Homo sapiens: one gene and its partners. The protein of the gene in region 3 purifies or fractionates together with the protein of the main gene of each other region. This does not show direct contact. Each region holds a gene or a part of one and is shown on either strand. Other genes may lie near its edges. The genes, in order: LIMD1, OTUD5 and TRIM35.

Region 1 (3,655 bases), on a different chromosome or scaffold from region 3:
ACATTCACAAGAGAGACAAAGTGACCTTACAAGTCACTGCATCAGGACCTTACAAGTCTCAATCTTAAAGGTCCAGTAAAAGAAACTGCTGATTCTTGGGATATGATTCTCCAAGGCCTCTCACATTTTTATACATCTGGTAAGAATAGACACCAATTGCCAGGTTCCAGACTTATATTTTCAAGGATGTTTATCTAGTGAACAGTCTTGGATGACAGAGATAGTGTCTGTCTCTGGAGCAAAAGTCAGGCAGGCTTACTGCCCATTATCAAATACCAGGGTCCCCTAAGCATGGGGGTTCCTCTTGTAATGCAGCCCACTGCGTGTGCAGGTCTCACCTGGCCCTCTTCTTGGGGCCTGGGGCTCAGGGAACCAGTGTAAATGCTGATAATCTGGCCACTGCTATTGCTATAATAAACTGTCCTTTGTCTCTGACCTATGAGTCTCATAACTTCTGCCAGGATCCATGAACCCATGTGGTGTGCTCACTTTATTAGCCTGCAAGTAGGGTAAAATCTCATACCCTTCACAGGTTTGCTACCTATGTGGTACTTTTAAGAATCCAGAGCTGTAAAAGAAGACAAAGTCCAGGTAGCAAAAAACAGTTTGCTGACTCCACACACAGAAAAGACCCAGGAAATATAATGTTCAAGGAGCACTTTAATAGTCAACAAATTGATGCAGTTTTGTCACAATACTTTGCATAATTTTATAGTAACAGTAAAATTCTGAATCACTTTATAGTAAAAGAAAAGACACAGAGGAAAATAATTTCCCTGTACAATGAAATTTTCATACACTATATGAAGATTTCCCACATCTGTCAAGTTTTGGCTCAGAATAAAAGATAGCTAATATATTTCACTCTTTTTTCTGTTACTTTTTTTTTTTTTTTTGAGACAGTGTTTCGCTCTGTTGCCCAGGTCGGAGTGCAATGGCACCATCTCGGCTCACTGCAACCTCTGCCTCCCAGGTTCAAGCGATTCTCCTGCCTCAACCTCTCAGGTAGCTGGGATTACAGGCGTGCGCCACCAAACCCAGCTAATTTTGTATTTTTAGTAGAGACAGTGTTTCACCATGTTGGTCAGGCTGGTCTCTAACTCCTGACCTTAAGTGATCCACCCGCCTCAGCCTCTCAAAGTGCTGGGATTACAGGCGTGAGCCACGGCGCCTGGGATTACAGGCATGAGCCACTGTGCCTGGCCTTTTCTATTACCTTTAAAAGTTACTTCACATAGTAAAGAAATTAGGACTGATTCTTGGCATAAAGGAGGGTACAAAAAAAAATTGTGCCAGGTACAGTGGCTAATGGCCATAATCCCAACACTTTGGGAGGCGGAAGTGGGCAGATCACTTGAGCCCAGGAGTTCCAGACCATCCTGGGCAACATGGTGAAACTCGTCTCTATTAAAAATACAAAAATTAGCCAGGCGTAGCCAGTCATACACGCCTGTGGTCCCGGCTACTCGGGAGGCTGAGGTGGGAGGATCACTTGAGCCCAGTAGGTGGAGGCTGCAGTGAGCTGAGATCGCGCCACTGCACTCCAGCCTGGGCAACAGAGTGAGGCCCTGTCTCAAAAAAAAAAAGAAAAGAAAAGAAAATTTGGTTTCCTGGCAGATAGAGTTTTAACAAGCGCATCAAGCAGTAATAATTTGTGGTCTTGTGCTCAATTCTCACACATGATCTTTGCAAGCGTCCCAGCAGCCATCACAGCTCTACTTTCACATGCATGGGACACAGCACAGAGCAGCAGCCTTGAAAGGACTGCAAAGAGGTGTGAATTCCAAACATTCTCTTAAGTCCTAACATTTCTGTTCTTCATTTTGTGTGACAGAAGCCCATGGAAACAAGGCGATGACGGCGCTTGAGGGTGACCAGACCTCCTCAATCATTCCATCAGCCACCCAGGACTCAACAGCAGAACCTCAGAGGACTCAGCTGAAAGAGGTTTTCACTCGAGCACTAACCACAGAGAAATGGGAAGTGCCATCCTGCTGTCATACGCAGCCGATGGCTGGGTAGGACTAAATGCCCTTCTGTGGTGAGATGAACCAAGACGGCAGATGGGGGAATAACATCAGTGAGAGAGAGATTACGAATGGATCCTTGTATTGCAGATCAAACTGGGTTGTCTCTTCTCAAACCACCCAGGCAGTTTCTGAATGTCCCAAGATAGGGGTAGGAGAAAAGAAAAAAAAGACAAAACAGGAGACGGTGGGTAAGAAAACCTAAAAGGCACAATGAGGCAAAGGCCTAAGATGGAGGCTGGCTTTGGGATCTGAAATCCGGCCACAATCCTCCTTGTTTTACCTCAAGTCCAAGAATTGTCAAAAAGAAAACCCAGAAGGGCTATTCATTCTAAATTTTAAAATCTTTTCTTCCTGGCCTACCAAGTCCTTGTGTTTTCTTTCTAGGCGCCCATAAATACAACCCCATTACAGTTCTATTTGGCTAATAATTTACAGAACATTTAAAATACCGGGTAGGTGAACATCTCTTCATGGCTTTTGTGTAAGGGCCTGAAGCGAAGAGAAAAACAACTGATTGGAGATTCCTATCTGGCGCCTTCTCCAGGGAAACTGACAACCAGAGAAATCTGTTGCTAGGATTTCTAGGACATCTGGAAATTCCCTTTTTGTTCTTTCTCAACAATATAAAATGGTATATTCGCAAACCTATCTGAATCACCTCAATCTAGGCCACTTTGAAAATTTCATTTAAAAATGTAATCACAGATTTTTAAACTAATTACCCAATTTGCAAACAAATCCCAGCTACTTCTGGTCTTGAACATGGAGCAAAGGTGTGTCAGTAAGGCCAACATTCTTAGGTTGACAGAGACAGGTTAACACATTGGCTGGCTTCATTTACCCCCCTGCCACGCCCCACACTGAGCTGGATGATTTGATGGGAAGAGAGGGTCCCCACCTCAGGGTTCACTTCCCCAGCCCCAGCGTTCATGGGTTTTCAGGAGGCTCAGCCTGTGAAAAAGAACCAATGATGATGCACACCCTGGCTGAAGTGACATCTGGCCAAAGGATTCCAACAGAATGAATTCCATCAACATGGAAAAGATAATCCATGGCACCAATTCTGTGCTGCTTACAGGCAATGGTTACCAAATGAGTCAAAACATGGCCTAGAAGTGGAGCCGGGCCCAATGAAAAGCCTGAGTTCACACGTGCTAGGGGCTCCACTGACCGGCCTCTGCAGCCCAGCACCCAGTCCTCTTGCTCTGGGTGCAAGGTGAGGAGGCAGAGTGCACACACCGGCTCCTGTGTCCCCGGCCTGGCTGGCAATGGTAAAATGGGCTGCCTTTCTTTTGCAGCTTCTTCTAATCGAAATACCAAAGGGTACTGACCTCTGGCCTCAGGGATGTGACTTGCAGTGCAAATTTTACCTCTTCAGTGCAGAGAGTGGTCTTGAAATCTTGCCAGTGTGTGGCCCTCCCTCAGCTCCTGCCACCCTGGGGAGCCAGGATGCTGAAATGCATAAGGCAAAAGCACTGAATCGGATCTATTCCCCACTGACCTTTAGTTACGATCACTCTGCCCTGACCAGCTGGAGTTGGGCCTGTGTGAAGCCAGTGATTTCCAACACACTGAAGAAGGTATCTGAGTCCAGTGTGAAAGCCAAATTCCTCCTGAATCTGTGA
Region 2 (2,697 bases), on a different chromosome or scaffold from region 3:
TCTTTAAATTAAGGCCCAGGGCCAGGTGCAGTGGCTCACACCTATAATCCCAGCACTTTGGGAGGCCGAGTCGGGTGGATCACCTGAGGTCAGGAGTTCAAGGCCAGCCTGGCCAACATGGTGAAACCCCATTTCTACTAAAAATACAAAAAAGTTAGCCGGGGGTGGTGGCACTCACCTGTAATCCCAGCTACTTGGGAGGCTGAGGCTGGAGAATCCCTTGAACCTGGGAGGCGGAGGTTGCAGTGAGCCGAGATTACCCCACTGCACTCCAGCCTGGGCGACAGAGCGATACTTCGTCTCAGAAAAAAAAAAAAAAATAAGTCCCAGGTTGGAAGGCACCTGACTGCTCCAGTCTCAGTGCCTCAGTTGAGGTGGTTTGGGGGTTAGAGTCAGGTCTTACAAGCATAGGAGTTTGGAATGACAGGTCCCACATCCCAAGCCTGCTTTCCCTTGGTCCCCAATCAAGAGGTAGTCTGTGGAGTGTTGCTCTTTGGGAGTACCTGCTTTCCTGTCTCCTTTTTTTTCTGGGGCCTGTGGGCCTACCTCGCTGAGCCTGTTCTGGCTCTTGGGCAGGTTCAGTGTGTTATTGCACATCCCTGTTCCTCTCCCTCCTTGCAGTTTGCAGAGCAGTCTCTGATGAAGAATGCCATAAAAACATCGGAGGAGTCATGGATTGAACAGCAGATGCTAGAAGACAAGAAACGGGCCACAGACTGGGAGGCCACAAATGAAGCCATCGAGGAGCAGGTGGCTCGGGAATCCTACCTGCAGTGGTTGCGGGATCAGGAGAAACAGGCTCGCCAGGTCCGAGGCCCCAGCCAGGTGGGTCATGGACTCTGTCACAGGCTTGGCCAAAAACTCATTACTTCTCATGCTTTGCCCTCAAGCGAGCAGAAAAAAATTAAGCAGTTTTGACATCTGGGAGGGAAGGAAGCATCCAGCACCATCTGTAACTCATCTTGGTCTTAGTTTTGGCATTGTACCTTGGAACTTTAAATACTTGTGCAGAACAGGCACTTAAGGAGTGAGAGGAGGGCAGCCATGCTGCTGGTGACACGAGAATAATGGATAGCTTCAGAGACACAAGCTTTTGTTGACTGCCCTTGTGTGCCAGGTCTCTACTGAGAATGTAACATCAGATCTGGACTACTCTGCCCTCAACGATCTCGTCTGTTGGCAGAGACAACTCAATGGTGGGGTCCTTGACCCTGACTGGGAGATCAGTGGAGGTGGGGGCTCCGGTTAGTCTTCACAGAGGAAGGTTGAATTGTTAGGGGAGCGGGGAGGGGCGGGGCAGACAAGCATCTGAGGAATTGTAAAATCGCAAGGAGTTTGGAGTGATTGTAGATGTTGGCTGGCAGGAGCTGAGTTTTTTTTTTTTTTTTTTTTTGGAGACAGAGTCTTGCTCTGTCGCCCAGGCTGGAGTGCAGTGGCGCAGTCTCGGCTCACTGCAAGCTCCGCCTCCCAGGTTGATGCCATTCTCCTGCCTCAGCCTGCGGAGTAACTAGGACTACAGGCGCCCACCACCACGCCTGGCTAATTTTTTGTATTTTTAGTAGAGACGGGGTTTCACCGTGTTAGCCAGGATGGTCTCCATCTCCTGACCTCGTGATCCGACCACCTCGGCCTCCCAAAGTGCTGGGATTACAGGCGTGAGCCACCGCACCCGGCTGAAGGAGCTGAGTTTTATTCCACAAATACCTACTACCAGTCTGTGGCAGGCCCTGTTTTCAGTATATGGGGATACATAGGTGAGCCCAGCAGACCAAGATCCCCGTCCTTGTGATGTTCACAGTTTTGCAGAGTGAAATAAAATAATAAATATAATGAATAAATTAGTTGGGAAGTGCTATGGATGGAAAGTGTAGAGCCAGGATAAAGGGGCTGAGCAGGAATGTGCGTTCACGGTATGAAATAGCGCAGTCAGGGTAGGCCTCAGAGCAGGTGAGATTTGAGCCTTGCAGAAGGTGAGAGTTAGCTGAGCGCACATGGAGGGGAGGACAGCAGGCCCACACACCTGGTACAACTCAGGCACAGCCCAGAGGGAGGCCGGTGTATCCGAACAGAATGTAGTAGTAGATGAAGTCAGAGAGGTTGTGGGTCCAATTGGGTAGGGGCTTGTGGGCTGTGGCGAGGACTTTGGCATTTACTCTCAGAGAGGCAGAAACCATGGGAGGATTGTGAGCAGAGGACGGACAGGATGTGGTTGGGGATTTAATAAGATCGCCTTGCCTGCTAGTCATCCAGTGGAGTCTGGTGAGTGAGGGCAGAAGCAGGGGCCAGTGAGGAGGAGGCTACTGCAGTAGGCCAGGTGACTGGTGGCCAGTGCTGGCAGTGGAGTTGGTGAGAAGGGGTTGGATTTGAGATCTATTTTCAAGATAGAGGTAACAGGGTTTCCTGTCAGATTGGCTGTAGGGGTGTGAGAGAAAGGGTAAGGAGCTCCACCTCTGTCCTGTGAGGAGTCTTGTGGTCCACCGTGTGAGTGGGGATGATGTTGACCTACATAGAAGCTGTATCATAGCCAAGGTCCTGGGAAGGGAGCCAGCATTCAGGGATGGGTCACAAGAAGGTCATGGCTGCTGGTGGTCCTTAACGCATTTACCTTCCCCGCTGCAGCCCCGGAAAGCCAGCGCCACATGCAGTTCGGCCACAGCAGCAGCCTCCAGTGGCCTGGAGGAGTGGACTAGCCGGTCC
Region 3 (3,655 bases):
CCAGGAGGCAAGGTATATAGCAGAAAAAACACAGGCATTCCATGTACTCATTGACTGGGCAGGTGGTTAACTGAACATCTACTTTGTGCAGGGACTTGGACATGCAGGGGACAAAACAAAGTCTCTCACCTTGCAGAGCAAGCATTCCTTCTGCAGAAGTGTACCGAGCACCACTATGCAAGGTAGAGAGGACCTGGAGGTTAAGACCTGCCCTCAGGAAAGAGAAGCTATTACCCTGGATAGTGAGTGCTGAGACAGAGGTGGCCAGGGTGCTGTGATGCCCTGGAATGGAACCTGAGCTGGCAAGATCGGGGGGCTTCCTGGAGGAAATGAGGGGTACTAGAGCCGAGTTTTCAAGGTGATGTTGGGTTAGTTGGGGGAAGCAGGTGGGAACCAGGCAGAGCAACAGTGTGTATCAAGTCTCACAAGACAGAAAACCTGGCTCAGGCCAGACAGAGCTGGTTTCACATGCAACTCTAGCACTTTGGTAAGTCCTTGCAAAGAGGCTATGAAGACCTTGTGCAATGAAATTCATTCTTTCCCTTGCCCCTACCTTCCTGCTTCCAGCTATACCACAGAGCACCTGTCCTGTTAATGAAAATTGTGGGTAACGTGATTTTGTAAAGTGCTTAAGATCTTCAATATGCAATTGAAATTTGTTGCTTAAGGAATCAACTTGTCATTTTTGGGAAATCATGTAGTCTATATGATCACATTCTGGATCCTTTAGTATGAATAAAAACCTATTTTGTGTGTGTTTATAACTAATCTTTAACGTAGGCTGGACGCGGTGGCTCATGCCTGTAATCCCAGCATTTTGGGATGCCGAGGCGGGCGGATCACCTGAGATCAGGAGTTCAAGACCAGCCTGGCCAACATGGTGAAACCCTGTCTCTACTAAAAATACAAAAATTAGTTGGGCATGGCGGCAGGCACTTGTAATCCTAGCTACTTGGGAGGCTGAGGCAAGAGAATTGCTTGAATCTGGGAGACAGAGGTTGCAGTGAGCCGAGATTGCGCCACTGCACTCTAGCCTGGACAAGAAGAATGAGACTCTATCTCAAAAAAGTAAAAAATATAAAATAAATAAATAAAAAATCTTAATGTTATAATGTGATGCTAACATCGAAGCTTGTTTGCTCTCCTGAGCTTGGGCTGGGGGATGCTCCAGATCTGTTGTGGGCCCCTGCTACTGCCCATCTCTGCTCATTCATGTGCTCCTTGGGCTACAGGCAGGCCCCTTGAGTGGTAGTTCTATTTGTAATCTAAGCATATTTAGGGTTAAAATTAATACCAAAAGCAAACAAAATAATATTGTTTAGATGCATTCAAATTCACACTTCTTACATGTCATATTTCCTAGGTGAACCACTAGATGCACAGAAGGGGAAAATGGAATAAAAAATGTGTAGTAAATTTTAAAAAAGGAAAGGAAGAAAAAGAAAAATAGAATAAGCAAGACAAATAGCTCAGAACAAGGTGGCAGATTTAAATGCAAACATATCGGTAATTATGTGTTAAATACTCCAGTTAAATGAAAATGTTGATCTGACTGGATAAGAAAACGAAACCTAATTCTGTGTTGCTTAATATAATTATCTCAGTGAGAAAACATTTGATAAAATTTACCATCTTTTTGTGTTTAAAAAAACAGGAAACTAGAAATGGAAGGAATTTCATTAGTTTGATTAAGTATATCTAGCAAAAAAACTTACAGCAAATATCACATTTAATGGCAAAACATTGAAAGCTTTCTTATTGAGATCAAGAAAAAGACAGGAATGCGCATTATGACCAACTCTATTCAGTTTTGTGTGGGATAGCCTTGTCAATGAAGTAAGCCAATAATTATAAATAAAAGATGTAAGGTTTGGAAAGAAGGGAAGCAAAACTGGCATGTGTAGATAATATGGTTGCATATTTTTGCACTGAGATTTCTATGTGTAGAAAATAAAGATTCTACAGTTAAATCATAAGTATTAATAAGTTTAGGTGAATGCTGAATCCAAAATCAAGATGCAAAACCAGTTGTATTTCTATGTATCACTAGCAAATAGAAAATAAAATATAGGCAGGGAGTTTTACACCTGTAATCCCAGCACTTTGGGAGGCTGAGGCAGGAGGATCGTTTGAGCCAAGGAGTTTCAGACCAGCTTGCACAACATAGTCCAGCCTGTCTCTACAAAAAGTTAAAACAAATTAGCCAGGTGTGGTGGTGCATGCTTGTAGTCCCAGCTACTTGGGAGGCTGAGGTGGTGGGAGGATCACTTGAGCACAGGAGGCTGCAGTGAGCTATGATTGTGCTACTACTGCACTGCAGCCTGGGTGACAGAGGGGGACCCTGTTTTGGGTTTTTTTAATTTAAAAATATGTTTACAATAATATAAAAAATAAGATAACTAGGAAGAAATTAATAAAAGATACGCAAAACTCTGATAGGGAAAAATATACTTCGTTGAGAGCTATCAAAGAACATTAAGTAACTGGTGTGATATATTATGTTCGTGGATTAGTAAAGTCAGTATTTAAGCCTTTCAGTTTTCCCCAAATTGATCTATAGAGACAATATTGTACTAATCTAAATCTCAACATGATTATTTTTATGCAACTTCACAGATTCTAAAATTTATATGACCCTCAAAGGGCCAAAAATTGCCAAGACATTCTTGAAGAGAAACCTATCAGAAATCCTCTCTTTTTTACAGCTATAGAAATTATGGCTGTGTGATGTTGGCACAAGGATAAACAGATGGGCCAGAGAAACAGATGGAGAGAACCAAAAAACAGATCTGTGTCTGATTTAAGACAGAGGTGGCTCTGCAGACCAGTGGGCAGTAATGGTCTTTTTAAATAATGGTGCTGAGACAATGAGCTACCTGGTCACACCATGTGCAAAAATAAACTCCAGGTATCCACATCAGACCTAAATGTGAAAGGAAAGCTATAAAGCTTTGAGAAAATACTACAGAGCTATACAATAATAATGCAAAGCTATAAAGCTTTGAGGAAATAATACGATTGTTTTTGTGATCTCAGTGTAGGGAGGTGTTTCTTAAAACTAGTATACTAATCCTAAAGGAAAAGACTAATAAATTTGGCCATATTTCAATTAAGAAAGATAAATGATGAAGTAGAAAATATTCATTACACCTCTAACTAATCAAGGACATACATTGTGTATATATAATAAATTCCCACAAACCAGTTAGGAAAATGGCAGGCAACGCAATGGAAAAATGGACAATACTTTACTGAGTACTTAAAAATAAACATTGAAGTGGTCAATAAACATTTTCTATTAACATTGCTCTTGCTGTAAAAATTGGTACCACTGCTTTGGAAAACAATTTGGCATTACGCAGTAAAGTGAAGACACATATGGTGGCCCAGCAGTTTTATCCCCAGGAATATATTATGAAGAAACGAGTTCCCATGTGTCCCCAGGAGACATGTACAAGAAGGTTACCTCCTCTGGGTCTAACTTGATCCTCTGTATAATGGGACTCACAGTGCTTAACCTTATAGGGAGAATTCGAATTAAATAATTGAATTAAATAGAATGTTTGTAAAGTGCATAATTTAGTGCCTTGTGTCTAGTACATGCTTAATAGTAACTGCTTGCTAGCAATAGTAATATAATTGTTGGTTAGTCTCA

Evidence for each region.
Region 1: the proteins of TRIM35 (region 3) and LIMD1 purify together in Homo sapiens (affinity purification with mass spectrometry; 2 studies listed by BioGRID and IntAct, with this or other methods). This does not show direct contact.
Region 2: the proteins of TRIM35 (region 3) and OTUD5 purify together in Homo sapiens (affinity purification with mass spectrometry; 2 studies listed by BioGRID and IntAct, with this or other methods). This does not show direct contact.

Annotation. Positions count from the first base shown.
Region 1 is NC_000003.12:45,678,251-45,681,905, reverse strand, and holds part of LIMD1 (LIM domain-containing protein 1), read right to left. Parts: 3' UTR 1-3,655. UniProt on the Homo sapiens protein: Adapter or scaffold protein which participates in the assembly of numerous protein complexes and is involved in several cellular processes such as cell fate determination, cytoskeletal organization, repression of gene transcription, cell-cell adhesion, cell differentiation, proliferation and migration.
Region 2 is NC_000023.11:48,923,975-48,926,671, reverse strand, and holds part of OTUD5 (OTU domain-containing protein 5), read left to right. Parts: intron 1-621; coding exon 622-825; intron 826-2,619; coding exon 2,620-2,697. UniProt on the Homo sapiens protein: Deubiquitinating enzyme that functions as a negative regulator of the innate immune system. Has peptidase activity towards 'Lys-48'- and 'Lys-63'-linked polyubiquitin chains. Can also cleave 'Lys-11'-linked ubiquitin chains (in vitro).
Region 3 is NC_000008.11:27,301,118-27,304,772, reverse strand, and holds part of TRIM35 (E3 ubiquitin-protein ligase TRIM35), read left to right. Parts: exon of another isoform or gene 1-12; intron 13-3,655. UniProt on the Homo sapiens protein: E3 ubiquitin-protein ligase that participates in multiple biological processes including cell death, glucose metabolism, and in particular, the innate immune response.